2 linked regions of the Homo sapiens genome follow. The protein of the gene in region 2 purifies or fractionates together with the protein of the main gene of each other region. This does not show direct contact. Each region holds a gene or a part of one and is shown on either strand. Other genes may lie near its edges.

The links.
Region 1: the proteins of GUSB (region 2) and HOXA3 purify together in Homo sapiens (affinity purification with mass spectrometry; 2 studies listed by BioGRID and IntAct, with this or other methods). This does not show direct contact.

Annotation. Positions count from the first base shown.
Region 1 is NC_000007.14:27,103,048-27,118,323, forward strand, and holds the end of HOXA3 (homeobox protein Hox-A3), read right to left. Parts: exon of another isoform or gene 15,100-15,276; intron 10,796-15,099; exon of another isoform or gene 10,578-10,795; intron 7,714-10,577; 5' UTR 7,594-7,713; coding exon 7,068-7,593; intron 5,674-7,067; coding exon 4,868-5,673; 3' UTR 3,963-4,867; downstream 1-3,962. UniProt on the Homo sapiens protein: Sequence-specific transcription factor which is part of a developmental regulatory system that provides cells with specific positional identities on the anterior-posterior axis.
Region 2 is NC_000007.14:65,977,321-65,992,428, forward strand, and holds the start of GUSB (beta-glucuronidase isoform 1 precursor), read right to left. Parts: upstream 4,894-15,108; 5' UTR 4,864-4,893; coding exon 4,654-4,863; intron 3,090-4,653; coding exon 2,904-3,089; intron 2,592-2,903; coding exon 2,407-2,591; intron 2,222-2,406; coding exon 2,079-2,221; coding exon of another isoform or gene 2,066-2,078; intron 1-2,065. UniProt on the Homo sapiens protein: Plays an important role in the degradation of dermatan and keratan sulfates.

The sequences.
Region 1 (15,276 bases), about 39 Mb from region 2:
CCCCCGCACACTCCGCGCATTGTTTGGGACTGTCGGGAAGACGCCTCGCACCTCACAAATCATTTAAGCACCTCAGTCTGACGCCTGCAGTCATTAACAAAGTAATCCATTAATCTTCAAAGTTTTGACACCCGAGGGCCCTGCGTCCCAGCCACATAAGTTCTGTTAAAGCAGGAGAAAGGAGCAGAGGAAGAGAGGAGATGAGAGAGGGAGAATAAAGAGAGAGGGAAGAAGAGAGAGTTTGAGAGATGGAGAAAGAGAAGACAGAAAAGAGAGAAGAAAGGAAAGATTTTGGTTGGGAAGGGGTCTTCCTTTTCTTTCCCTTTTCCTCCTTCACTTTTCCTAAAAGCAGTTCCTGGATCTCAAAACTGATCTCTCTCGGTCTGTTTTCCTTCCTGTCTGTCCCTTTCCCTCTTTTTCCTCTTCTCCCCCTTTCTCCCTCCCTCTCTCTTCTGTCCGCCTCCCCTTCTCCCCTCAGCCTCTCGCCCCCCTCCCAGTGTCCAGCCCAGAGTCTGCGCCCCGGGCCCATTGTTAGCAGGCTATTCCACGGCAGCTTTGCATCTGGCTCCGGCGGGAAGCGGAAAACGGGAGGCGGCTCTCGAAGCTTCCCGACCTTCCTGCGCCATCAACTTCTCAGGAGTGGCTGGAGAAAGATGCATGTGCCAAGCGAGACAACAACCCCAGGTCCATGTGTCCAAATCCCCGTAGCCAGGGCGGCGGCCAGCCAAAGAAATGCCGCCCCGAGCAGGCGCGTGCGGCTCCTGGCATTCTGGGTTTCATACCCGTAGGGCTCGGGTGCGGTGAGTATTTCCGATTTCCAGGAAGTCTGTTGGAAGTTACCAGCAGGGAAAGAGAAGATGCTTGCTCCTCTCTTTCCCTCCCTCTCTCTTTTTTTTCTACCCTTCTTCTTGTCCTTGTCGCTCTGGTTGGGGGCTGGTTGGTTTAGATACAGCGAGTGCTCCCTGGCAGCCTGAACTGCCTCCCACACCTTCCTGATCCTTGGGCACCGGGGATGTTTGCTTCCGGGTTCTGTTGTGGGAAACAGCACTGCGGGGGAGAGGAGGCGACCCAAGGAGGAATTATAAAGGTTTTCGTTCTCCTTCATTATCTTTTTTCCAATTCGGAGACTTGAGACTGAGCGCATCTTGGACAGTGCTAGAGGGTTCAAAAGATAACACCTTTAGGTACCAAAAAATAATTTTTAAAAAATCCACCAAGCCAGAAAGAGGTGAGGAGGCTGAGAGGTAGATCTGGAGGTACCTCTTTCCCCCCCAAACCCTGAGGATGGTGATTCGCTTTTGCTTCCTTTGAAATAGACTAACTGATCAGACTCCCCCAGGCCGGCAGGCATCAATGGCAGGAAAATAAATCATTCTGATGGTCAGGGAGAGAGAGGTTGGAGGGGGAGAAAAATCTACGTAGAAAACAAGAAAGGCCAACCAAGGAGCAAAGGCAGGACCCCATCTCTGAGGCCAGCGTCAAAGAGGGTTTGGGGTGGAAATTAGACATAAGTGGCCTATATCATTGACCAGCCCAGAGCATTGCCTTGCAGATAGAGATGCTATTTTGGAAAATGTGAGGTTTTTTAGTTTTCTTGCTTTTATTCCAAACAAAGCTCCAAAGGAAGTCTGGGCGCGATCAATCTTGCTCACCAAAAGCCTTGACAGCTTCTAGCCCTTAAGAACACATTTCAGCTTCCAGCTCCTTCCAAGATAAAATGTGGCCGAGCAAAGAGGAGAGCAGGAAATGCAAGTAAATAAGGAAAACTAGTCTTTTAAAAAATATATTTTGGCAGTGAAAAGGGTTATAGGGCTCCTTTTAGGAAGGGTGCTTTGCGAACCCTGGGATGGCAGCTTTTGGCATCTGCTTTTACCAGAAAATATTACAGGCTTAAGGGAACGTGGGCGGGGGGTGCAGAGAGGGAGCAGCGCTGCCCCCATATCTCTGAGGCTTTGTCAGGGGCTGCGTGGGTGAGAGCTTTCTGCTGCCTCAGCCGCCTTAATTCAAATACCATCTGGAAGAAAACCCTTTTCTTTGACCACTCAACACTGAAATCTTCCCCAAATCTATTACTTTAACTTATGAGATATTTTAATAAGGATTTCTTTTTAATATCTAGGAAACTGGGGGGTGAAGTCAATACTTTTTTCTTTGAAAGCCAAAATGAATGTCTTGACTGGTAAGATGCGGGAAATCACATTAGAATCTCATTTTAAAATCTTAGCCCTGGGGGAAGGAGGAAGCCTCCAAACCACCCCTCCCTCAGCTAAAGAGTAGATTTCAGAAACGTGTTCAAATAGTGATATCCCTGAAGGATCTTCATCCTTAGGTGAATCTCTCCCCTAGCTGTTCCTTATTTTTCCAGGTAATTTTACACGTGTCTCTAAGCTGATTACTTAAAAGAAGACTCCTGTATCTGCTTAGCGTGACGAAGAGGTGGAAGCTCTAGTCTTCACAAAGCCTGGTTTTGCAGCCTCTGCATTTCTGAGGTGCGCCATATTTTGGCGCAGAGGTTGAGGTGCGGAGAGGAAATCTATTTCTCCCATAGCCCAAACCCTTTAAAAAGGATATATATATCAGCAGCCTTAGGACAGATATGGGGAAAGCACCTCTGGGTGTGAGAGAAACACTGAGCTCTCCACAGCAGCCTGGCTTGGCATCCTCCGAGCCTTTTCCTTAAACCATGAGGAGTTTCTCTAAAAGCAGCTCGTTGGGACCCAGCAGGTACCCAGAAATGGCTCCAGTGCCTGCTTCTAAGGATAATCTGAGGGAGCTTCACAGGGGGAAGATAAAGGCCATGATGATGGATATTTTGGATTGCAAACAAAATGGCGACATTTTCCACTTCTGTCTCTGAAAGATACAATCCAGGGAGAATAGGGATTTATTTCTCACATCCGATGCTCCTGATCCCCAGACGAAAGCAGTTCCTCGCTTCTAGCTCTGAAGGGGGTGATGATGGGGATGCAGGTCTGAGGTCTGCATTTTCTGAATTTGATTCCTTTCTCGAGGAATCCTTAAATCTGAAGATGAAAATATTTCCCTTTACTGTGCCTTCTTTTGCCTCTTCTAGCCAGTCAGTAAGCAGCCCTATCTTAAATCCAGGAGTGGAAATGTAATATTTAGCTCCTACAACATCAAATGAAAAATTTATAAAATTGCAGTTTTATTACAAAGATACCGATCTCCTTGCTCTCTCCCCCTCCCCCTGGGGCCATAAAAAGAAAGCTGGGTGGGGGAAGGAGAGGAAATAAATTCAGAGAATGCCAAATACTACATTCAGCAGGAAGCTAATGCTGGGATTCCGGCAGTCCAGGGAAGGGCTGGCTCAGGGTGACTCTCCCCAGTTCAGTCCTCCGTTTGCTGGAGACCTGGGTGAGCCTCAGTCCCTTTCAAACTGTTTCGCTCCGCGTGCAGATTTTTGGAGCAATTCTTTCCTCCTGACGCGATAACAGACCGCGAAGCATCCCCGGAGGAGACCAGGAGTCCGATTGCTCCCGGAAAGTGCTCGGCATCCTCTGCGCGGCTGGCTAATACCGAGGTTTAGGCGTTAGTTGGTCCGCTTTGACCCGAGGAAGAGCATGGAGCAGAAGACCGCCCTGCGTTATCCCCCGGCTGGGCCGCGGGGCACCTGTGCGCTCCCGCTGCGCCTTGGGCCGGGATGTCTTTGTTTCTTCCGTGCACAGCACTCGGCAGCCCCTGCGCCCTCAGCCTGCCTCCGCAGCAGCTGGGAACCGGGCAGCCCAGCTGGCCCGCCGCACGGCGTTACCAGAGCTGCCGCAGCCGCCTGGAGCCCCAGCCGCCATCCTGAGAATTCGCCGAGCTTCCAGGCGAATAGCCTGGCCAGGCCCCATGCTGGAGCCAGAGGGCTGCTGCGTCCGGCCTGCTCTGCCGGCTCGCCTCGGCCTGAATTCCACGCAGACCCACGTCTTCGGCCAAAGAACCCCTTCTTAACACGGATATTATTCAGAATAAAAACTTTATTTCTTTTTGTTTCTCAGAATGTGAGCAGCAAGGAATGAAGAACTCTCAAAACAAATCTAGTATTTTTCGCGTTTACAGATTTTTTTTTTCAGTTTTGCCGGATGTTACAAACCTAAATCACTGTTTTCAAAAGCTGGATCTTCTCTGGTTTTATTGTATCGTTACCGTTTAAAGGAATTATATTTCTCTTTCAAATAAAAAAAATTCTAAGTACGCCAATACACAATTGAACAAAAGGCCCAAGAACCCTTCTGAACCATCAGGGTACAGAATTCTTTAATATAAATACGAACGGATGGGGATAAATAATATTTAAAACTTAGATTATTCAATGCTTGCAAAAAAATATAAATAAATCTGACTGTTCACCAGCATACACACACGGAAAGACGTACACTTAGTCATCCTTGCACAGAGAGCCCCTGTTTCAAAGCGCCTTTGATTTTTTTTCTCACTCTTTACAAGAAGTGCAATTAAAAAAAAAATTTAAAATTAAAAAAAGTAATCGCTTCCCCTCGGGAGCCATAATGTAAGAACAAATTCACATTGAAAACTCGACTAGAAAATTTGTTCATATACCCTGTTTCTGATCAAAGAGTGGAGAAGGTAAAGGGTGCAGGGCCAGTGGCCTATCGAGGAGCAGGAAGAGATAAATATCGCTATGATACAGCCATTCCAGCAACCAAGATTGCTACGTCACATAAACTATAAAAACGCCTTACCAACGAGGGGGGAAACCGGGAAACGGAGTGCGGGGCGGAGAAGAGAGAAAAGGAAGGAAGGAAAGGGCAGGAAGAACCTAAAAAAAAAAAAAAAAAAAAGCAACCAAAGAAAAAAGGTGGGTGGGGGGAGACTCTCCTGGCGCGTAGCCCCAAGCCCACTATCACAGGTGGGTGAGCTTGGGTGCTTCCTGAATTCTTCCCTGAGAAGGATGGTGGCCGGTAAGGTCCGTGTAGGTGGGGTGCGGCTCCCCAGGCCCCGGCCCGTGGTGGTGGCCGCTGCCCAGCGGCCCGGCACCCCCATAGTCCATGGCGCCCGAGGCAGCGTGGGGGAGGTGAGTTAGACCAAAGAGGGCTGGCCCGGAGTTGCTCATGGGCTCCACATAGCTGCCCCCCACGAAGACGGGGCTTCCCTGTATGTGTGGGGTCCCATAGCTGCCGTTGCCCTGCAGGCCATGAGCGTGCGGGTCATAGTCGGGGGTGCCCCCTGCGCCCGCCCCTGCCGCCGTGTAGCGCTTCTGTGGGGGTGGCGGGGGTGCGCAGCTGGGCAGGGACGCAGGGTAGGAGGCGGGGGGCAGCCCGTAGGTACCCTGGGGGGGCTTGGAGAAGGGCGGGGGCGACTGGGGCTCATACGGGACGCTGTTGACCAGCGAATGCATAGAGTTCAGATAGCCACCGGCTCCGGGGGGCACGGGGCTGCGACTTGGAGACTGGCCCCCCGATGACGTTAGCATGCCCTTGCCCTTCTGATCCTTTTTGTACTTCATGCGGCGATTCTGGAACCAGATCTTGATCTGGCGCTCAGTGAGGTTCAGCAGATTGGCCATCTCCACCCGGCGCGGCCGGCACAGGTAGCGGTTGAAGTGGAACTCTTTCTCCAGCTCCACCAGCTGCGCGCTCGTGTAGGCCGTGCGCGCGCGCTTGGACGAAGCCTGCCCCGGCGGGCTCTTGTCGCCAGCGCAGCTTTCGCCTGCGAGGACAGAGAGAGGAAGAGCGGCGTCAGGGGCTGCCGCGGCCCCGCCCAGCCCCTGACCCAGCCCGGCCCCTCCTTCCACCAGGCCCCAAAGGTTCCTGCATCCGTCAGGTCCCAGAGAGAAGTAGGAACTAGGTGCTATCCTCTCTCCTGGTGGGTAAAACAGTGATACTCCCTCATTTAGCCAAGGAGCAAATCACAGCCTTCTCGGGGGAAAGGACAGAGAAGTAGAACCCCCGGTTTGCCTTCCTGGTCTGGATTTTCTGTTTAGAGCTATTAACTTTCTGACTCATTTACTGGTCCCTTTGGCCTATCGGACAACAGCCTCCCTGTGGGCCGGTCTCAGCATCTCCATTCTCTTCACAGTAACTGAAATGTGGGAAACCTAATGTACACACTCATTTCCCTCCCACACTGTCTGACAATAATTAGGCAGTAGCTTCAACTGGCCACTTTTTTCTCTCTACCCAGAGGAGATGGGCAGACTGGAAACCTCAAACTGGAAGGCCTTCTCTGCCCAAAGAAGAGATCCCATTGAAGGTATTTCTGGTGGGGAGGCCTAGGCCCTTCATGCTAGGTCCTATTCTTTAGGGTTCCCTATGTCATCAAGCAGCCAGCCCCAGCTTTTGTCCACTAATCTTGTACCCTTCTGTCTTCCCTGGCCCCCCAGATCCTAGCTCTGGAAGTCCCAGATGCTCAGGCTCAGAGCAGGGCACTGGCAACTGGAGAAGGCAGGGGCAAAGGTAACCAAAATGCTAGGAAGCCTAAAGCCTGGGGCCTTTCCTCTACTGGAGCCCGCTTTCAGGAGGCCCATGTGGTTCCCATTAGGATGATAAGTCTGCATCCCCCTCCCCCAGGAGATCTTTGGCTGCTTTCATTGTACTAAGTCTGAGTAGGGTCTTCCCAGAGGTAAGGCAGCCACTCCATCTGCTGGAGCAAAAATTGGCTCTGATTATAGGCAAAGCATTGATTCTGTCTTGGAGGGTGATTAGGCCTGTTTTTATTCTGCCACATTTCAGTAAGGGGAGGATGTCACTGTTTCATTAGAAGAGCTGTGCTAAAAAGATAGACAGTGGAGCTCAGGTTGTTTCTGCACAGAGGTCCTAACTCCAAGAGTGGAGCAAGAAGAGATTCCAACTGCACTAGACCCTACTTGCCCTTGGAGAAGTCCAGAGGGACTCCCAGCAGGTCTCTGGTGTTTTCCAGCCTACAGAGGCCTATCACCTCCCTAAGTTGCAAAGACTATGAAAACCTTTTTGGTGGGCAGTGGTGTGGGAGCAGTGAATTCCAGACATGCTCCATCGCTCCTAGGCTGTGCTGGATGTCGTGGGCAGTAGCTTGGGGACCAGGAGCCAGGCCAGAGGACCCTCTTCCAGAAGGCACTCCTTTACCTGAGCTGGAGCTGCTGGTTTTCTGCTTTGTGTTTTGTCGAGACTCTTTCATCCAGGGGAAGATTTGTTTGGCCACTGTGGGTGAGTTGAGCAGGGGGCTCTTGGCCGCGTTGGCAGGGGTAGGGTTGTTGCTGGCATTCTGAGGAGGGGAGGCAGAAGAGGGAGGCGGGGGCGCGGCAGGGGTAGGTGCAGGGGGCTGAGGTGCGGGCTGAGGCGGCTGTGGGGCAGGGGGCGCGGCCTGGGGCGGCGGCGGGTGCAGGGGCGGCTCTCCCAGGCTTGGAGGCTGGCTAGGTGGGGCGCTCAGGGTGCGCAGGCACGCCTCACTCAGTTCGTGTGCCTTGGGGTGGCCCCCGGCGCTGGAGGGAGACTGGAGGGAGCAGGCGGGTCGGTGGTACTCGCCGTCGGCGCCCAAAGCGGCGGACGCCGGGTACGGCTGCTGATTGGCATTATAAGCGAACCCGTTGGCTGCCTGGTAGGGGTAGCCACCGTAGATCGCCGAGCTGTCGTAGTAGGTCGCTTTTTGCATCGCGTTGTTTCACGATCTTGATCGCACACTCTGACAGGGGTTTGACACCCGTGAGGGCGCACATTGGCACGCCCCCGCGGTCACGTGACACTCCGCCGCCAATGGCCGCCCCGCGCAGACCTGGTGGGGCGAGAAGCGCAGCGCGGTGAGGGCTCCGCGCAAATCCATCTTACTCTCAATAGCTAAGTGACATGAAAGCCATAAAAGAAAAAGTGGTCAGCAATATTTAGCAGCACGACTTGGCCCCGGGCGCAGGGAGCCGTGCTATAAAAAACCGCTGGAATTTACTGGCAGCTACAAATATTTGCTTAACTTGCGTCTGGAGTTGGGGGATTTTCCGGGGAGAAGGAGAATGAGTGAGGGCTGCAAGCTGATTCTCAGGAGCCGGGATCCAAAAGGAGAAAGGCTTGATAGGCTAGAAAGGAAAAAGGCTGGGATCTTTCTTTTCCAGGGAAGAAGAAACTTGGGGTGTCGCTTAGTTTCTGCTCCTTGGCCTCCTCCAGAGGGCCCAAGACTCCTCCACTCTGGGAATGTTGGGAAGGGAACGAGGAGGCAAAGGGGAGCTTGGGTCGCCAATGTTTTCTCCGCTTTAGGACTGATGTTTGCCAAAAGAGCCCTGAGATGGGGTAACTTCCCACCCAGCTCCTTCTTGGACCTTCCTGCTCCCAAGAGAGGTTTGCACAAAAAATTTCAGGCAATTTGCCCCATCCAACCATGCTGGATTTCAGAAGCTGAGCTTGTTAGGAAGTTAATCCACCTTGTTGGGGATATGACTCACCTCCTCCAAATGAACCCCTTGTGGCCAAGCCAAGGGGGGAGGGAAAACTTTGTGTGGAACACATTGCGTGTGTGTGTGTGTGTGTGTGTGTGTGTTTAGGGTGAGGGACCAACAGTAACACCCCACCCAGCAAGTCACAACTAAAATCCTGGAGAGTTCTTTACTCCTTTCCTCTCCCTGTTTCTCAGGCACTTCCCAGCAAGCCACCCCCACTTCTTTACTTCTTTCCCCCAGTTACAGAAGGTTCCCAGAACCTCCTGTCTTGGACTTTCTAAGGTGCTGTTATTCGGGGCAACTATCAAATTCTACCTGTTAAAACATGATGGATTAGAGGGGGAAAAAAAACCCCTCCAGGAACCTGAAAAACCAGCGTTCATCTCCATGACCACAGTTTGAACTCTCCTTCCAACTTAACGATAATAGGTTCTGTCTTAGAAACTGCTATGTAATTTGATGTATGGGGGTCATTTGGCTCCCGACGAGGGATGGAAGCACAAGCCATAAAATCCTGCCAGAGTTTCCTGATCTTTGTGTGCTGTTGTTGTTGTTGATATTTTGTTACTTGGCCTATTTACCTGCTTCAGAAATACCAAGTAAAGGATAACCCTGAAAATCTAAAAAGCAGTTGAAAACCTCCTCAACCCTCTTTCATTTAGAAAGCAGTTTGCAAAAGTTAAATCTGTTTTCTTTTTGTTTTCAACCACTGCATGGTCAACCTCTAGTTCTCAGCACAGAAAAGTTCCATGTGAGTTTCAAATATTCACCCACACACACACTCAGAATCTTAGTCCCTCTGACCACTCAAGAAAATTATAACAAATTCAAAAGAAAATGGTTAACATGCAATCCAACTATGTATATTGAGTCCCAGAGTTATTCAAGTTTTCCAGGAATATTAGATGCTTTGTTAACTAGAAAAAAAAAGATAATGTATTGCATCTACCAGTAGATGATTATAATTCCATTGTTGATAATGGACTCCTTTAGATTTCATTATTAAGCCAACAATCTTACCAACATCTGCAAAACAGGCACAATTAATTTTCCAGAACCTCGATTAAAAATTACAGCATCGCTTATCCAGAGTTATTGTCAGTGATCATGAGCCCTGGAGCATTGTTTCTCTTTTGGAAATAGGAAGCTACACATACCATGGTTGAAAGTAAATAAAGGATAAAGTAAAACTTAAAACTGAATAGCAATTTAGTGTATCCGTTTCCTTTTCTTTTACTGAAAACAGTTCCTATTACATTTGGCAGTGTCAATGTCTGCCATTACAAATTTTTTAGATACCAGGCTTGTGTAAAATAAAATGTCAGGTTAAGAAAATTAGACACTCGAACAGCAAGATATTAGATAAAACAAAATTAAGCTGATTTTGCACATGCAATATTTCTAGTGACTTGCTAATCCATTATCACGTTATACCAGCCTGCTACTTAGTTAAGCCTTTTTATCAAGTTGTGCATTGTCTTACAAAATAACAAAAATATCTTTGAAAATCAAAGAGCATACAACAGCCCTCGTAAACTTAAAATATAAATTCGATTCTGGGATCCCACCAAAATCCTTCCTATTGTTCGAGGTCAGCAGACCACCACCTTGGAGCTCATACATCCCCCCACCCCAACCCAGCCCCCAAAGTTTGCAACCTAGTAAAGAAGTTGGAGATTTGCCAGCCAGGAAACTTTGCTCTGTACCGCCAAGCAAGGGCTGGGGATGAGGGGAGATTCCTCCACAAAGATCTGTTTCTGGACAATAATCCCCAGGTGCAAGAGCCGAAAGAGAGTTGAAGAGGCTAAATTGAGTGCAAGAAGCAAGCCCTATTGTCTCTCTGGAAGATGTGCCCAAATTCAACCTCCGTCCTTCAGACATCGCTCCCTCTTCCCATTCCCTCCTCTTTCTTAGCCTTCCCTCACCCCAAATCTGAGCGGGTTCGTCGGATAGGAGCCCCGAGTCCCCTGCCCACCTCTCCTTCCCTCTGCAACCCAGAAAAGTTAAGGCTGGGCTAGGGGAGAGGCAAGAGGTGGGGGCGGGGATGGGAAAGCGGCCTGAACTCGAAGTGTAAGGGTATCAGTCACTGCCGGGAAGGAAGCTCCGGCTTGTGAACTCTTCTTGAACCGAGATTTAAGTCTGCAGCCATAAATCACCGAGACGTAAACTCCGCCATTCAGCGCCGGGAGCGGCCGGTTGCGGCCCTGCTTACCTTAACTTCTGACGAGCGCAGGCTCGGGCTCAGGCTCCGACACGGGCTCTGGCCCCCGGCCTGGCTTGGCGGCCCGGCCGGGTCCCCTCGGCGCGGGATGGGCACGGACCCTCAGCATCAGCCGAGATGGCAGGCGGGCTGGAGACCCCGAGGCCCGGTCACCGCCGCGCAGAGCGTGGCCGCCTCGCTGCTCCAGCACGGCTCGCCCAGGGCCGACTGGGGCGGCTTGGACCCCCCTCCCACCCACCCCACCCACCCACCCCTCCCCCACACCCCCGCCCCCTGCCCTTCCCGAGGGCAGCAGCCGCGGCCCGGAGATAAGCGCTAGTGCGGCGCCGGGCTCTGCCTGGGCTAGTGGCACCGACTTGGGTATGTTTCTTATGAATATTACACGCGGAGCAGCGTCTGGTCCGGGGGTGCGGTGGGGGGTGTTGGGGCGGGCGGGAGGGGAGACCAAGGCGGCTGGGGAAGCGCGGGCTGGTGTGGGGGATGGGGCTGAGGCGAGGGGAGGGACCGGAGGGAGAAGGGGAGCTCGGCGGTGGCGGGAGGAGGGCAGCCTCCCCCCACCCCCCAACGCCCTCCCTCTCCTGCTCCCAGGCGTCACGAAAGTCCAGGAAAATTATGCTAATGAGGACAAACGGCTCTCACAAAGGGGCTCTCTTGCTGGGCTCTATTTCTTAGGAATTCGTTTGAGAAACTTCGTATTCCTCTGCCCTGGACACTTCCAATTGTGGGGTGAGGGGAAAGAGAACCAAGAAAAGTGAGTTTCCCAGACTTTGCCCAGTTTACTTCACCTGCAACTCCCAAACAGATCTTTGGGTGGGGGTGTGGGGAGCTGGGATAAGGCTTTTCTCTAGAGACCCTCAAGAGCCAACTGGGCTCTCTTTGGTTAAATTTTCAGGCAGAAACTGCTGACATCCTAGCAGCCAGGAGAAAAATGTCCTGGGAGAGACAGGTACTTGTTCCAGCAGTGAAATGGGATGCTCTGGGCTCAGGTACAAACAAGGGTGTTTAGAAACGCGGATCTCCAGGGCTCATGTGCCCATTTCAGAGTGCAGACACGCAGCTCACCCACAGGGAAGACAGAGAAAGCTCTGACCCCAAGAGAAACCGACATCATACACACACACACACACACACACACGCAGGGCAGAGGAATATGTGGTTTCTCAAACGGATTCCTAAAACATACATATATATATAATATATATTATATATATAATATATATTATATATATAATATATATTATATATATGTATATACATATTTTCCTCATTAGTGGGATGGAGTAACGCTGAGCTGGGCAAAAGAAAGGTCCGAATTTGCCTGGTAATATTGCCACAACTTGAAAGTGGATGATTTTCCTCCTAAAGCCTCCTTTGCTCCCAGCTTCAGAAGCAAACTCTGCAAGGGTACGAGTGTGGCAAAAAGAGAAATGGAGATTTCTCTCTTTTGCTGCAATCCCAAGGCGTCAACGGCGGGTCCTTCTCAAAGGAAGGTGTTAAAAATATAAGTAGTATGTTTAAACTGTCAAGGAGCCAAAGTGTCACCTTAGAGCAAAAACAAAGCCAGGGGAAAAGGGAGAAATCAAAAAGCACTCCGGGCCAGGGTGGCCTCATGCATACCAATGGTTTTTGTCATTTATGGCTGGGCAAGATTTATGACTCGGCGCCCCAAAGCTGTAAACAGAGCACAAAACAGCAAACACTTGCTCCTTATGGCATATTGCAGAGCAACTTGAAAGGGGGAGCTGGCCGCGTAGGAGGTGAGAGCCAGCCGCAAAAATCCGTTCGGCGGCATTTTCTCTTCAAACCCGCCCGGTCGGATGTGGCATTTGAAGAAAGAAGGCGTGGGTCAATAATCAACCCGCACTTTCTCCTCCAAACTGCTGACGCGACTCTCACCGCCTTCTCAGCTAAGCCAGCTGCCGGGAAGGCCAGCTCTCCGTAAGAACCTGCCAGGGGAAGGGATTCTCTGGGCCAAGGGGACCGAGGGCTCCCGAGCAAGGGCTGGGGCGCCCTGAAAGCATACCTTTCCACTGGCGCCAAGACCCTGCCGGGCAAAACGCGGGGACCAGACCTGAGGAGCCGTGGGAGCCCAGGGAGATCTGGGGCGGGAGCTTCGTTCCGGCCAGGGCCTCTATCCGCCCCGATACGTGGCTCCTGGGCCGCGGGCCTCAGCGGGCAGAAGTGGGGCTCCGACCTCAAGATGAAGGTCCAGCGTCCTGGCATGCAGATGGTCGGTGCCCCAGCCTCAAGCCGCTCTGCTTAAATCCAAAGGACTGGCTTTGGAGCAAGCGTAGGCGAGATTATTTTAAAATAATAATTTATGCTGGCGGAAGGTTTTTATTTGTTGGTTTGCTATTGGTGTTTTGTTTTTTAAGCGAAAATGCCGATTGTTGATTTCCACCTCCAGAAATTACCAGCCGCCGCCGCTGCGCCCTTTCTAGACAAATCCCACAGCAGTTCACCCGGCTCCCCCAAAACCGCAGAGCTTTTCTTTACTGAGAGGACCCCTTGGTTCCACCAATTCCCCCAAATCCCCGTGGCTCCCGATCTCTCATCCAGGGGGACTAGAAGAAAAGATTTTCTCAGCACTAGAAGAATACTTGGAGCAGCAAAGGTGCCCGTGGTGTCTTTCTACCATTCAAGGGGTGTCCTCCTGAAGGCGTCTGAGAGGGCCTCTGGCGGTTCCAAGGCTGTGCAGCCGGGGAGGAAGGTGAGGAATATCGTGGGTAAGAAGAGGCACCAAAATCACAGAATAGAGAGGAAAATTATTGAGGAAATGTACTTGCCTGTGAGGGTGAAGCTGGCATTTCGAGGTAGAAGGGGACTAGCCTTTTTTGATATCTAATAGTTTAGCATTATACGTAATGGACTCACTTTAGCACTTTCATGGGAGGAAAAACCAATCTGAGCTCTATAAATGTGGCTCTTGGCTTCTCACTGTGCATGCTTTTATGTAGAACCAGAGTCCATCCTTAGATATTTATTCAGCTTGCTGGCACTGAAGCAACAATAAAAAGATGCCTCTAACAAACCTCTATTCCCTCTCTCATTCTTTCTAGCAAAACTATATTATTTATGAGTCTTTAACTGGGTCAAAAATGCGCCAGAACTAGGTCATAAATCATATGAAATGCTGACAAGTAATTGAACAGCAATTAAAGCTTACATTTTATTTCCAAGGGGTGTTTTAGAGCACTTGAAAGGGCCTCAGTTAAACACTTGGTTACTGCCGAGGCCGGCACTGGGGAGGGCAGAAGGGCCCTTTCGTTCTGGGGTAGTAAATCCCACTCAAGTAGGGGATGCCTGATTTGATTTTTTTTTCACGTACAGAAAGAAATAATCTATATTTTAAGAAGTGAAAGGGGCACATCCGACCTCTGACTCCTTATAAGCATCCCTTTCCCTACTGCAAGGAGCATAATAGAGTTTCCTGCACCTTTCCAGGGAGTTCCCACCCTTCCCAGGAGTGTGGGGTCCCCAAAGCCCAATTAGCTGGGGCTTTCCCAATAATCTGGAAACATGCAGTTTAACTTTCATCTGCCTCCACCCTGGCTACAGCTCTGTTTTGGAGGCTCTGAAGCTGGAGAGATGTCTGCCTCTGCTTCCTGAGGACTCTTGTCTCTGGACTTCCCTCCAACCCAGGGCCCACTGGCCAGTTCTGGAACTCTCCAAGCCAGCTGGGGGTACACAAGGAATGCCCAGACCAGGCGCACTGATGAAGTCCAAACCTAATCCTGGCTCCCTCCTTCCTCTGTCTCCCGAATGTTAGAATAAGGAGCCCCTGGGCATCCAGCATGCTCACCCCACCCCAAGGCTCTCCTAGGTCTGAGCTGTCTTTCTTCAACCCTCTGGGGCAGAGGGTGCTCAGGGAAACAATGGCGGGCCCTCCGGTTCAGATCCTTGGGTCTGGCTTCTTGGGTCCGGCTTGTGGGGAAGCATGCTCTGCAATCTGGCACTAAACAAAGTGCCTGGAAGCATCATCAATAAAATGGCAGCGCATCTGCACATTTCCCTCATCGATTTCCCTCTTCCAGCTGCTCCGGCTGCTCAGGTCAGCCCCTAATCCTCCATCCCCTGCCTGAAAACACCGCCATCCTGGGAGAGATTCCCCTTCTCACCCACCCATCCCCCACCCCTCCCAGGCAATCTAGCCCTGCAAGCCGGTCCACCTCTGCCTGCACCTGGCTTCTGGACCCTCTTTCCGCCTGGGGATCAGCTCCTGAGACTCCAGCCCTGCCCTGCTGCAGTGGACAAAGCCACCCTTGCACTGGGGGCCACTGGGCCCACCTAGGAGCCCCCCTAGTGCCCCCTCCTTTACACCCCCAACACTTTCCAGGGAATTAAATTCAGAGTCTGAGGCGCTACTGGGAATCTTTCAAATGGTTTCGGTTCTAAAAGAGAAACAAAGGAAGAGAGAGGCTGAGGGTCCTGTCCATGAGCCAGGGTCTCCTCGCCTGACCTTTGTCTCTCACAGCCATAACTCACTCTAGATATGAACAATCGGCGGAAATACCTTAAAATAAATTCCATCCTCCTGGTATAGCCTCGACTTCCATCGGCTAGCTCGCCCAGAACCGCTCCATGAGTGCTGAAAACTGCAATCGGCTCAGAGAGCGCTCTCCGGAGAAGGGGAAGGAGAAGGAGGAGGTGGGTGCGTGGGGGTTGGGGGAAAGCTCTGGCTCTGTAGAGA
Region 2 (15,108 bases):
CTCACACCACAATGTCCAGCTAATGTTGGCTAAGCTGGTTTGAACTTCTGAGCTCAAGTGATCCACCCATCTCGGCCTCCAAAAGTGCTGGGATTACAGGCATGAGCCAGTGCACCCAGGCTGTTCTAAACTTAACTTCCAAAATACCTTTCCTTGGCAATAAATTGCTCTATGGTGCATTGTCTTTGCTGTGGGATTCTTTTTTAAATTCTTTTTTATTCATTTATTTTATTTTATTTATTTATTTTTTTCTTAGATAGGGTCTCAGTATGTTGCCCAGGCTGGTCTCAAACTTTGCAGCTAAAGCGATCCATCCACCTTGGACTCCCAAAGTGCTGGGATGACAGGCATTAGCCACCACACCCAGCCTAAATTCTTTTAAACTTAGAACCGCGGCCCCACAACGGCTGTCAATAATCTCACCACTGCACTCCAGCCTGGGCCACAGTGCAAGCCTCATCTCAGAAAAAGAAAAAGATATATATATATTTTTTTATTTTTATTTTTTGACATGGAGTCTCGCTCTGTCCCCTAGGCTGGAGTGCAGTGATGCAATCTCAGCTCACTGCAAGCTCTGCCTCCCAGGTTCACGCCATTCTCCTGCCTCAGCCTCCCGAGTCGCTGGGACTACAGGCCCCTGCCACCATGCCCGGCTAATTTTTTGCATTTTTAGTAGAGACGGAGTTTCACCATGTTAGTCAGGATGGTCGCGATCTCCTGACCTCGTGATCCCCCCACCTTGGCCTCCCAAAGTGCTGGGATTACAGGCATGAGCCACCGCGCCCGCCCTGAAAAAGATATATTTTTAAAAAGAAAAAAAACTTAAAACAAAAATTTTTCTTAAATACAGACCGAGCGCTGTGGCTCATTCCTGTAATCCCAGCATTTTGGGAGACTGAGGCGGGTGGATCCCGAAGTCAGGAGTTGAACCAGCCTGGCCAACATGGTGAAACCCCATCTCTACTAAAAATACAAAAATTAGCTGGACGTGGTGGCACACGCCTGTAATCCCAGCTGCTCAGGAGGCTGAGGCAAGAGAATTGTTTGAACCCGGGAGGCGGAGGTTGCAGTGAGCCAAGAACACGCCACAGCACTCCAGCCTGGACAACAGAGCAAGACTCCATCTCAAAAACAAAAAACAAAAACAAAAAAAACAGGGTATCCCAGCTGGGCACAGTGGCTCACGCCTGTAACCCTTGCATTTTGGCAGGCCGAGGAGGGTGGATCACCTGAGGTTAGGAGTTCAAGACCAGTCAGGCCAATAGAGTGAAACCCTGTCTCTACTAAAAAAAAATAGAAAAATTAGCCGGGCGTGGTGGCGGGTGCCTATAATCCCAGTTACTCGGGAGGCTGAGGCAGGAGAATCGCTTGAACCCGGGAGGCAGAGGTTGCAGTGAGCCAAGATCACGCCATCGCACTCCAGCCTGGCGACAGAGCGAGACTCCAGCTCAAAAAAAAAAAAGAAGAAAAAAAGAAAGACAGGGTCTGCGTCTGTTGCCCAGACCAGAGTGCAGTGGTGTGGTCATAGCTCACTGCACCCTTGACATCCCAGGCTCAAGTGATTCTCCTGCCTCAGCAGCTGGGACTACCGGCACACATCACCATCCCTGGCTAATTTTTTAATTTTTTGTGGTGATGGCCTCACTATGTTGCCCAGGCTGCTCTTGAACTACTGGCCTCAAGTGATCCTTATACCAGGGCCTCCTTGCAAAGTGCTGGATGACAGGCATAAGCCACCATGCCCGGCGCCCCCCCCACCGAAGCTGCCTGTTCCTTGAGCACGATGTGTAGCAAGGGGAGATGGAGTGAGAGTAGCACCATAGAGAAGGGACAGGATTGCCACCCCGAGCTGTGTGACGTTAGGCCAGACCCCTCTTCTCCTAGCGAGGTCAACCACACGGGTGATTTTGGGAGCCCGTATCCGCTCACACAGGCTGAATTTTAGCTTCATAGGTGGAAGGGAATCTGTGAGGGTGTAGAGATGCTGGGAGCACCTTTTTCCTGGGAGAGCTTTCCAAACAGGGAACAAACAGAGCCACCCTGGGCCCCGCTGAGAGGATCCTACCAGAAGCCCTCACCACTGTCTTGCTCCACGCTGGTGGTGACGGTGATGTCATCGATGTAGGTGGTGGGTGTCGTGTACAGAAGTACAGACCGCTGCAGTCCAGCGTAGTTGAAAAAGTCAAAATATGTGTTCTGGACAAAGTAACCCTTGGGATACCTAGGATGGGAGGACTGTGGTTTGCTGGGCCCTTGCTCTGGGTCCCCTGACCTCAGCTCACAGGCCTCCCTGGCCTCCCCAGATCCAAGGCCTCCACTCTGTGAAGGCCACCCAGTCCCTACCAGGAAGACCACAGGGTGGGGCGGGAAGGTGGGTGTGTGCAATGGAGGCAGGATGGTACCCACTTGGAGGTGTCAGTCAGGTATTGGATGGTCCCTGGTGGCAGGGTGGTGGGGGTGAGTGTGTTGTTGATGGCGATAGTGATTCGGAGCCGGGAGGGCAGGGGCCCCACCTGGACCAGGTTGCTGATGTCGGCCTCGAAGGGGAGGTAGCCCCCCTCATGCTCTAGCGTGTCGACCCCATTCACCCACTGCAGACACAGGAGATACGGGGAGGGGGCTGCAGGTCAGGGCATGAGGAGGCGCCCTACTATCGGGCACTCCCTCACATAACCTGCAGCATGGGGCTCCGGGGCCTTCCAGCCAGACGGGAAGAATGACATCCCAATGGGGTAGATCAGGCTACCTATCCCCCTATACAGGGCACAGCCCCCAGGGCAGGGCAGGGCAGGACCCCCCACCATCCCACCCCAGCATACATGCCGTGGGTGGCAGCTGGAGGTCCCATGCTGTTCAGCAGCCGTGCCCCCCCACCCGCCCTGCCTGCTCCTGGCCGCACTGACCACGATGGCATAGGAATGGGCACTGCCAATCCTCAGCACCACTCTTGTGCGCAGGTCCTGGGTCCATCGCTCCGGCAGGATCACCTCCCGTTCGTACCACACCCAGCCGACAAAATGCCGCAGACGCCAGTCCTGGCTGATGTCATTGAAGCTGGAGGGAACTGGCATGTCCACGGTGGGGCCTGACTGTGGAGAGAAGAGCCGGGCTCAGCTCCTAGGCCCCCAAAAGGGTCCAGGACCAGTGTGCTGCACGGCTGTGCCCCCAGGCCTAGCACAAGCCCTGACACATAGCGGGGATTCTTGGCAGAAAGGACAGATAACTTGCTGATGACAGGTCAACTGCCAGGGCGATCTGTGCACCTGGGCCAGTGGGGCCAGGAGTTCCTCCTCAGAGTGGATGGGGCACAATATCTCCTGAGACAGGAGCAAGCCCAGGGCCACATCCCAGCCAGAGGCAAGAAGGTTCAGACCTGTGACTAAGAGGCAGATGGCCACTGCCTGTCACAGGGAGGAAGGCTGGTTGGAGGAATGGGGGGAGCTTTGCTTAGGACACTGTGAGTGGGGTGCACACTGGCACCCAGCCCCCTCCTCTTTCCCTCCTGTACTGAATGCTGCAAAGTCAGAATAAGAGGATGTAGACCAGGCAAAAGCCGCCCAGACCTCACCCAGTTCCACTTCTCTGCAGATCACATCCAAGTCAGGAGGGGAACAGGGGTGGCGTCCTGGGCCTGATGTCATGTCCTGTCCTCTATGTGAACCTTGAAAACCAAGGGACTTCCTGCCTCGGCAGAGCTGACCTCAGGACATCTAAACTGTCACCTTCTCCCGATCCCCGGGCCCAGCTCTGTGCAGTGCATGCCGCTGTGGCCAGAGTGTGTGGGTGGCTCATGCCAGTAATCAGCGCTTTGGGAGGTCAACGTGGGAGGATGGCTTGAGGCCAGGAGTTCGAGACCACCCTGGGTAAATAGTGACACCCTGTATCTTTTTTTTTTTTTTAAGTTTTTTTGCCTTTTTTTTTTTTTTGGAGACGTAGTCTCACTATGTCGCCCAAGTTGGAGTGCAGTGGCATCCTGATCTCAGCTCACTGCAACCTCTACTCCCGGGTTCAAGCAATTCTCCTGACTCAGCCTCCCAAGTAGCTGGGATTACAGGCATGAACCACCACACTTGGCTAATTTTTATATTTTTAGTAGAGATGAGGTTTCACCCTGTTATGTTGGCCAGCCTGGTCTCAAACTCCTGGCCTCAGGCGATTCGCCCGCCTCCACCTCCCAAAGTGCTGGGATTACAGGTGTGAGCCACCGAGCCCAGATAATTTTTTTTTTTTCAATTAGCCAGGCGTGTTGGCACCCCCTAAATTGCAAGGCTGGGGCGGGAGAATCGCTTGAGCTCAGAAGTTAGGCTGGCGCCACTCCGCCCCAGCCTGGGAAACAGGTGCAAACCCAGTCTCAAAAAAATTTTTAAAAATTAAAAATAAATATTGAAAGGAAGGATACTGCACAGACTCAGCCTTTACCTCGGGAAAGGGCTCGGCAAGAGCCTTTTCTCCTCCTGCCTAATCCGCCCCGGCCCTCCAGGGTGCTCCTGTTCCCCCGTCCCCCAAGCCGGCGCCCCCAAGCCCGTTGACCTTTAACCTCCTGCGGGCCCCAGCTCGGAGACGCCCAGGGGAAGAAGTCTGCGGGGGGCCCGGGCTCCCCTACTCCCACCGCCGGGCTTTCGGGCGCCTCCCGGCCCTGCCCCGAGATCGCACCTCCCACAGCGGCCGCCGGTACCACTGCTCCTCGAAGCCCCGGCGTCGGTTGTCAGAGAAGTCGGCGCGGAAGCTCCAGAGGCCGTCCAGCTCCTTGCACTCCCGCGACGGGCTCTCCTGGGGGTACAGCATCCCGCCCTGCAGCCCCAGCGCGCAGCCCCACAACAACGGCCCGAGCGCCGCCCAGGCAACCGCCGACCCCCGGGCCATGCTTCCCGGTCCCCCGCTCGGCCACCGTCTGCGGCGCTAAGAAAAGCGCGGGAGGTGCCCGTAGGGCGGGTCGCGTGACGCGCCGGTGTCGTGATGCGCCTGAAGCCATCCGCGCCATCTTGGTTGAGGACGAGTGCCAGGCCTGGAGGGGCGGGGCCGGGCGCTGCCCGGTAGGGCTTGTGGCTGGAACCCCAGGCTAGGCCTTTGGGGAAACGGGACCCTCACCCTCAGCCCCAGCCGATAAGGGCGAGGTCTGCTCCCCACCCCGACCCAGGCTGGACGATCCAGGGCCGCAGGCCAGAACAGAACCCCTGAGATCGGTGGGATCCCCCTGTTTCTTCAAGGAGCACCTCCACTTGCTTTTCCCAGCAGGAATTCAAGGAGGCCCCAGCGGCGCCTCTTCCATGCCTGTCTGATGCAGCCTCTTGCAGGGATGCACGTCCTTGGGATGCGGCCATAGCCTTGACCCTGGGCTTCTGGAGCCCTGACCTTAACCCAGGGGCCAAGAGCTCCCTCTTGGTGTTGCAGGCACATAAAGATGCAGGGAGAGAGGCCAGGTGCACTTTGGGAACCCGAGGGGGGCAGATCACTTGAGGCCAGGAGTTCGAGACCAGCCTGGCCAACGATAGTGAAACCCCGTCCCTATTTTGTAAACATACAAAAAAAAAAAAAAGAATTAGCGGGGCGTGATGGTGCGTGCCTGTAATCCCAGCTACTCAGGAAGCTGAGGTAGGAGAATCGCTTGAACCCGGGAGGCAAAGGCTGCAGTAAGCCGAGATCGCACCACTGCACTCCAGCCTGGGCAACAGAGCGAGACTCTGTCTCAAAAAAAAAAAAAAAATTGCAGGGAAAGGGTGCCCTGCGGGACCCCAGTTTACTCCAGTAGGGAAGGCACCGTGTGGGAGAGGTAGAGGAGGAGATCTGGAGACAGCAAAGGAGACATAGATTTATGGAGGGGACTTTCATACAGGGACGGTGCAGTGGCCATTGCTGGACATGAGAACCACTACCATTTGTAAAAAGCATGCAGCTTACATAACATTTTCAACTAGCATCCTCGACCTGTTACTGGTGGAGTTCCGGGTGGTGAATCCCTACACATCAGCAACAACCTCAATTCTTGCCTCCTCAGAAGAAAGAATTGCACTGAGGGGCATAAGGCAGAAAGCCAGAGGGAGGTAAGCTGCAGAGCAGTAGTAAAAGCTTGTTAAAAAGCAGGCCAGTGCTGAGCGTAGTGGCTCACACCTGTAATCCCAGCACTTTGGGAGGCGGAGGTGGGGGGATCACGAGGTCAGGGGTTTGAGACCAGCCTGGCCAATATGATGAAACCCCATCTCTACTAAAAAATTAGCTGGGCATGGTGGCATGCGCCCGTAGTCCCAGCTACTCGGGAGGCTGAGGCAGGAGAATCGATTGAACGCGGGAGGCAGAGGTTGCAGTCAGCCGAGATCGCACCACAGCACTACAGCCTGGCGAGAGAGCAAGACTCAGTCTAAAAAAAAAAGCAGGCCAGGCACAGAGGTTCAGGCCTGTAACTCCAAACTCCAGCACTTTGGGAGGCCAAGGCGGGAGGATCACTTGATATCAGGAGTTTGAGACCAACCTGGCCAACGTGGAGAAACCCCATCTCTACTAAAAATACAAAAATTAGCCAGGCGTGGTGGCAGGCACCTGTAATCCCTACTATTTGGGAGGCTGAGGCAGGAGAAATGCTTTAACCCAGGAGGCAGAGGTTGCAGTGAGCTGAGATCACGCCACCGCACTCCAGCCTGGGCTACAGAGTGAGATGCCATTTCAGGAAAAAAAAAAATATTAAAAAACTTTAGAACAGGAAGGAAAGAAGGAAAGTACAACTTGGAAGAGGGCCAAGTGGGTGATCTAAGAAACCAAGTGCCTTGGCCAGGTGCGGTGGCTCACGCCTGTCATCCCAGCACTTTGGGAGGCTGAAGCAGGCAGATCACCTGAGGTTGGGAGTTCGAGACCAGCCTGACCAATATGGAGAAACCGCATCTCCATATTTAGCTGGGCATGGTGGCACATGTCTGTAATCCCAGCTACTCGGGAAGGCTGAGGTGAGAGAATCGCCTGAACCAGAGATTGCAGTGAGCCGAGATCACGCCATTGTACTCCAGCCTGGGCAACAAGAGTGAAACTCCTACAAAAAAAAAGAAAAAGGAAAACAAGTGCCCAGCTTGACCTCTTGACTCAGGGTTTCATAGATTGGCATCCTTCCAGGATCTTGCCACTCCTGATTCCTTAGCTGGGGCTCTGAACATACATTCTTAGACCATAAAGTCATTCGCAGGGTGCACAACAGTTACGGATGTCAGGTGCCTCTGCCATACAGAGGGAGCCCTCATGTCCTAGGAAGCTGGCCTGGACACAATTGTTTGTATGATTACTCCCCCACCCCCTTTTTTCATGCTCACCAAATCCACCTTCTGAAAATGGACCTCAATACTGGAAATGGAGTCCCCAGCATAGTGAAAATAAGTACATTCTGGGAACTGACAAGGCCTAAAGGCTCTCTCCCAAATGTTTACATTGTTTTTTTATTTTCATATTTTCTTTTTTTAAATTTTACTTTTATATTTCATTAGTGAAATCTTGACATGCTTAAATTAGAATACAGTTCACTGTTTATGAGGCAGCTTTAGGCCAAATTTAACAAAAGTAAGAAAAAGTAGGATGCAGACGTTTATACAGTATGTAAAAATCAGTAATTCAGGCCAGGGGCAGTGGCTCACGCCTATAATCCCAGCACTTTGGGAGGCTGAGGCGGGCAGATCACCTGAGGTCAGGAGTTCAAGACCAGTCTGGCCAACAAGGTAAAACACCATCTCTACTAAAAATACAAAATTTAGCCAGGCATGGTGGCAGGTGCCTGTAATCCCAGCTACTAGAGAAGTTGAAGCAGGAGAATCACTTGAACCCGGGAGGTGGAGGTCACAGTGAGCCAAGATCACACCACTGCACTCCAGCCTGGGGGAACAGAGCAAGACTCTGTCTCAAAAAATTAAAAAAAGAAAAGAAAAGAAAAAAGAGTGAGAATCACTAATTGCCACGAGAATGGCACCATGCCATTCATGAGGGACCTGCCCCTATGACCTAAACACCTCCCACAAGGCCCCACTTCCAACATTGAGAATCAAATTTCTTTTTCTTTTTCTTTTTCTTTTTTTTTTTTTGAGACAGAGTTTCGCTCTTGTTGCCCCAACTGGAGTGCAATGGTGCCATCTTGGCTCATCACAACCTTCGCGTCCCAGTTTCAAGCAATTCTCCTGCCTCAGCCTCCCGAGTAGCTGGGATTACAGGCATGCATGCCCGGCTAATTTTGTATTTTTAGTAGAAATGGGGTTTGTTCATGTTGAGGCTGGTCTCAAACTCCTGACCTCAGGTGATTCGCCTGCCTTGGCCTCCCAAAGTGCTGGGATTACAGGCGTGAGCCACTGGGCCCAGTGGGGAATCAAATTTCAACACAACACTTGGTGGGGCCAAACAAACCATAACCAAACCACAGGATAGGTACTATTATTACTACCATTTCTCAAATGTGGAAACTGAGACACATGAAGGTTCAGTAACTTTTCTAACACCACAGAGCTAGTAAGATGCAGAACTGGGAATCTGACCTAATCAATCTGTTTCCAAGTGTTTATGCTGTCACTCTGAATCACTCTGCCATACCACCTGGCAAAGGCTTTTTTTTCTTGAGAAAGTGTCTTGCACCCAGGCTGCATCACAGTTTACTGTAGCCTCGACCACCTGGGCTCAGGTGATCCTCCTGCCTTAGCCTCCCAAGTAGCTGGGACTACAGACACATGCCATCACACCCAGCTAATTTTTAAAAAAATTTTTATTTATGTATTTTTTTTTTGAGACGGAGTCTCACTCTGTCGCCCAGGCTGGAGTACATTGGAACAATCTCAGCTCACTGCAACCTCCGCCTCCCAGGTTCAAGCGATTCTCCTTCCTCAGCTTCCTGAATAGCTGGAATTACAGGTGCATCACCATGCCTGGCTAATTTTTGTATTTTTAGTAGAGACGGGGTTTCACTATGTTGGCCAGGCTGGTCTTGAACTCCTGACCTCAGGTGATCTGCCTGCCTCGGCCTCCCAAAGTGCTGGGATTACAGGTGTAAGCCTTCATGCCTGACCCTATGTCCAGCTAATTTTTACAACATTTTGTTGGCCAGGTGTGGTGGCTCACACCTGTAATCCTACCACTTTGGGAGGCCAAGGCAGGTGGATCACCTAAGGTCAGGAGTTCAAGACCAGCCTGGCCAACATGGCAAAAGCCCATCTCCACTAAAAATACAAAAATTAGCCGAGTGTGGTGGTGCACACCTGTAATCCCAGCTAATGGGGAGGCTGAGGAAGGAGAATTGCTTGAACCTGGGAGCTGGAGGTTGCAGTGAGCTGAGATCACAGCACTGCACTCCGGCCTGCGAGAAGGGAGCAAGACTCCATCTCAAAAAAAAAACAAAACATTTTTTAGTCTGGGCATGGTGGCTCATGCCTGTAATCCCAGCATTTTGGGAGGCTGAGGCAGGTGGATCACCTGAGGTTGGGAGTTTGAGACCAGCCTGACCAACATGGAGAAACCCTCATTTCTACTGAAAATGCAAAATTAGCCAGACATGGTGGTGCATGCCTGTAAACCCAGCTACTCGGGAGGCTGAGGCCGGAGAACCACTTGAACCAAGGAGGCGGAAGTTGGAGTGAGCCAAGATCTCACCATTGCACTCCAGCCTGGGCAACAAGAATGAAAGTCTGTCTCAAAAAAAAAAAAAGTTTGTATTCAGGGTTTCACTATGTTGCCTAGGCTGGCCTTGAACTGCTGGCCTCAAGCAATCCTCCCAGCTCAGGCTCCCAAAGTGTTGAGATTACAGGCATGTTACCCAGGATAATCTCGATCTCCTGACCTCATGATCCGCCTGCCTTGGCCTCCCAAAGTGCTGAGATTACAGGAGTGAGCCACCATGCCTGGCCTGATCTGTTTCTTTTTCAGAGACACAGATACTATCCAACATTTTTCTTTTTTCTTTCTTTCTTTCTTTCTTTCTTTCTTTTTTTTTTTTTTTTTTTTTTTTTTTTTGAGACAGAGTCTCACGCTGTTGCCCAGGCTGGAGTGCAGTGGTACAATCTCAGCTCACTGCAACCTCCACCTCCCAGGTTCAAGCAATTCTCCTGCCGCAGCCTAATAAGAAGCTGGGATTACAGGTGCTCACCACCACAACTGGATAATTTTTGTATTTTCAGTAGAGACGGGGTTTCACCATGTTGGCCAGGCTGGTCTCAAACTCCTGACCTCAGGTGATCCTCCAGCCTTGGCCTCCCAAAGTGCTGAGGTTACAGGCATGAGCTGCCATACCTGGCCAGCCATTCAACATTTTTCTGATATCTTTGTTTTAGCTGTTGTGTTTTGCTGAATTAAAGCATCTGAATTTGGTAAGCATTTGTAAATCAAAGAAAATTACTGAAGCGTGTCTCAGTCATTTTTAGAGGTCATTTTGTGAAAGTTGAGGATGCAGTGGGAGGAAAAAAGAAATAAAAACCACAGGAAATATTTGTGATGCATGCTTTTTTTTTCCAAAGACGGTCTGGGGACTTCAATATTTAAAGGGAAAAAGAGGCCGGGCTGGGTGGCTCATGCCTGTAATTCCAGCACTTTGGGAGGCCTAGGCAGGCGGATCACCTGAGGTCAGGAGTTTGATATCAGCCTTGCCAACATGGTGAAACCCCGTCTCTACCAAAAATACAAAAATTAGCTGGGTGTGGTGGCACATGCCTGTAATCCCAGCTACTCGGGAGGCTGAGGCAGGAGAATTGCTTTAACCCAGGAGGCAGAGGTTGCAGTGAGCCGAGATCACACCACTGCACTGCAGCTTGGGCAACAGAGCAAGACTCGGTCTTAAATAAATAAATAAATAAAGGGAAAGAAAGTGAGTAGTAGGGGAAGGCAAAATAAAAAAACAAGTGGGGAGGGAGAACAAATTGAAGCGCCAAGTGATCGTGTTCCTTTGAGTCTTTGATCAGCGTTTACAGAATCTACATTTTACATGTGGAAAGAAAAGGGTGGAGAAATAGTCAATTATGCATTTATCTTGAGCTCAGTGAATATGCATTTTTTTCATGAGATAAATAAACATAGAGTACAGGAAGCAGTCAGATATGCTTTTGTCTCCAGTGCACAGAGGGATGACTTTTAGTTCTGTCCTTTGTCCTTTACCTGTGAAGACAAGTTTTTCATTTATGCTGTCAGGGTGAAATTCAACAGCACTGTTTTGCCCAGGCATGGTGGCTCGTGCCTATAATACCAGCACTTTAGGAGGCCAAGGTAGGTGGATTGCATGAGGCCAGGAGTTGGAGACCAGCCTGGCCAACATGGTGAAACCCCATCTCTACTACAAATAAAAAAATTAGCCAGGTGTGGTGGTGCATGCCTGTAATCCTAGCTACTCAGAAGGCTGAGGCAGGAGAATCACTTGAACCAGGAGGTAGAGGTTGCAATGAACTGAGATGGCGCCATTGCACTCCAGCCTGGGCAACAGAGCAAGACTCTGTCTCAAAACAAAACAAAACAAAACAAAACAAAACAAAACAAAACCAGAACTGTTTTAGATGAAATTCAAGAAATTAAACAGAACTGTTTTCCTTTCACATATTCAATGTCAGTAACTCATCTTTCTGGGTTTGAGATACTGAAAGAGCAATGTCTGGCCTCATCCAAACCCTGGTAGATTTATCACCCAAGAAATTTTGAATATCAAGACCCTACCCTCTTCCCTGAATAATGACTGTGAAAGGAAAATAAATCTCAGGACCACCAACTCACTAAGCCAAAAGCAAAAGTCAAGCTGGAAACTGGATCATGCAAACCTGCCTCTCCCATTTTATTCCTAAATAGATAGCTACAAAGATTTTTTTTTTTTTGAGATGGAGTCTCACTCTGTCACTCAGGTTAGAGTGCAGTGGCGCAATCTCTGCTCACTGCAAGCTCCGCCTCCTGGGTTCATACTTTGGGAGGCCAAGGCAGGCGGATCATGAGGTCAGGAGATCAAGACCATCCTGGCTAACACGGTGAAACCCCATCTCTACTAAAAATTTAAAAAGTTAGCCAGGCATGGTGGCACACGCCTGTAATCCCAGCTACTTGGGAGGCTGAGGCAGGAGAATTGCTTGAACCTGGGAGGCAGAGGTTGCAGTGAGCTGAGATCGTACCACTGCACTCCAGCCTGGGTGACAGAACGGGATTCTGTCTCAAAAAAAAAATAGAGACAGGGTCTAGCTCTGTCACCAAGGCTGGCATGCAGTGGTGCAATCGTAGTTTGCTGCAGCCTTGATCTCCTGGACTCAAGTGATCCTCTCATCTCCACCTCCTGAGTAGCTGGACCATAGGCATGCATTACCATGCCTGGCTAATTTTTTTATTTGTAGAGATGAATTCTCACTATGTTGCCCAGGCTGGTCTCAAACTCCTGGCCTCAAGCAATCTTCCTGCCTTGGCCTCCCACAGTGCTGGGATTTCAGACAGGAGCCACCACGATGGCCACATAGGCAAGATTCATTAAATCATTGGTCACTGGTGATCAACTCAACCTTCAGCTCCTCCCTATCTCTGGAAATATGGGGGCAGGGGGCTGAAAGTTCCAATCCCCTAATCATGAGGTTGGTTCCCCTGGCAACCAGGCCTCATTTTGAGGCTATTCACGAGGCCCCAGAGATCAGTCGTCTCATTAGCATCCACAAAGACACTTACCACTTTGCAGATTTCAAGGGTTTCAGGAGCTGTGCACCCAGGAAACAGGGACAGAGACCATATATGTGTGTTTGTGCATATATGTATATATGTTTGTGTGTGTGTATTCTTTTTGTGTGTTCTTCCTTCTTTTACACTGTAGTTTTCAGATCTTACAAATATATATTATTATTTCATGTTTATATTATAAAAGGAAAATAAAATCTCGGGACCTCAGACTCACTATTCTACAGGGAAAAGTCAAGCTGGGAACTGGGTCATGCAAACCTATCTCCCATTTTTTTTTTCTAAAGAGATAACTACAGACCGGGTGCGGTGGCTCACACCTGTAATCCCAGCACTTTGGGAGGCCGAGGCGGGCGAATCATGAGGTCAGGAGATCGAGACCATCCTGGCTAACATGGTGAAACCCCGTCTCTACTAAAAAAAAAAAAAAAAAAATTAGCCAGGCATGGTGGCAGGTGCCTACAGTCCCAGCTACTCGGGAGGCTGAGGCAGGAGAATGGTGAAACTGGGAGGCAGAGCTTGCAGTGAGCTGAGATCGCACCACTGCACTCCCGCCTGGGCGATAGAGCGAGACTCCGTCTCAAAAAAAAAAAAAAAAAAAGAGATAACTACAAAGATAAAAGACTACATACCTCCCTCCGAATTTGCTCCAAGAAAATTCCTTGTGGGCCTCAAGATATTGACCCTAAAAGACTTCTGTTGAGACTGGGTGTGGTGGCTCACGCCTATAATCCCAGCACTTTGGGAGGCTGAGGGAGGTGGATCACCTGAGGTCAGGAGTTCGAGACCAGCCTGACCAACATGGTGAAACCCCATCTCTACTAAAAATACAAACATTAGCCAGGTATGGTGGTGGGTGCCTGTAATCCCAGGTACGTGGGAGGCTGAGGCGGGAGAATTGCTTGAACCTGGGAGAAAGAGGTCACAATGAACCGAGATCATGCCACCGCACTCCAGCCTGGGCGACAGAGCAAGATTCTGTCTCAAAAAAAAAAAAAAAAAAAAAAGAGTTCCGTTGAATTTCACCCTGATAATGTCAATGGATAACTTATGTTCACAAGTGATGGACAAAGGACAGAACTAATTGTCACCCTTCCACCCACCTGAGACAAATCTACATCTGGCTGCCTCCTCTACTCTATGTTTATTTATCTTATATAAAATGCAGATTCACTAAGTGCAAAATTAATGCCCAGGTGACTGTTCTTCTACCCTCTCCTTCCACATGTAAAATGTGGACTCAGTAAACACTGATCAAAAGATCCGAATGCAATTGCTTTCGAATGCAACTCTATTAGATATATACCTTCTCTTTTTTCTTTCTTTGCTCTTTCTCCTACTGCCCGCTCTTTTCCCTTTATTTATAGAAGTCCCCAAACCCTCTTTGGAAAAAGCACAGATAGCAGATGTTTCCTGTACTTTTGTGTGTGTTTTTTTTCTTTCCTGGATACGCCCTTAACATTGGCAAAATCAACTAAAATGATTCAAGACTCACCTCAGTCCTTTTCTTTGGCTTGCGATATAAATGGAATCATAGAGGCCAGGCACGGTGGCTCACGCCTATAATCCCAGCACTTTGGGAGGCCGAGGCGGGTGGATCACCTGAGATCAGGAGTTCAAGACCAGCCTAAACAACATGGCAAAACCTTTTCTCTACTAAAAATACAAAAAATTAGCTGGGCATGGTGGTCCCGCCTGTAATACCAGCTACTTGGGAGGCTGAGGCAGAAAGAATTGCTTGAACCCGGGAGGCGGAGGTTGTAATGTGCCAAGATCATGCCAGCGCACTCCAGCCTAGGCAACAGAGTGTGACTCCACCTCAAAACTAAATAAATAAATAAACAAATGAAATCATATAATGTGTGATTATTTGCCTCTTAATGTTTTAAAATCAAACATTTACACTGTAATTCTGCTTTGTACCAAAATTCATCAGAAACAATTTTCTTAGCACTGTGATTTTATTTTCAAAATTAGCTGAACATTATAGCAAAGCTAAGTTACAATTTTCTCCTGCCTTCCCTGAAGAAAAGCCCTGAGGGATTTTGTTTTATTTTGTTTTTAGGTTTTTTATTTATTTATTTATTTATTTATTTATTTATTTTGAGACACAGTTTCGCTCTTGTTGCCCAGGCTGGAGTGCTGTGGTGCGATCTCAGCTCACTGCAACCTCCACCTCCCGGGTTCAAGCAATTCTCGTGACTCAGCCTCCTGAGTAGTTGGGATTACAGGCATGCGCCACCACACCTGGCTAACTTTTGTATTTTTAGTAGAGATGGGGTTTCACCATCTTGGCCAGGCTGGTCTGGAATATCTGACCTCATGATCCACCCACCTTGGCCTCCCAAAGTACTGGAATTACAAGCGTGAGCCACTGCGCCAAATGTTGCCATCTCTTTTCCATTAGTGGAAGCATGTCTGTTGCACTGGGACAGGAATTAAAAGAAATTAAAGAATGTGTAAGCAGAAACTCAGTTG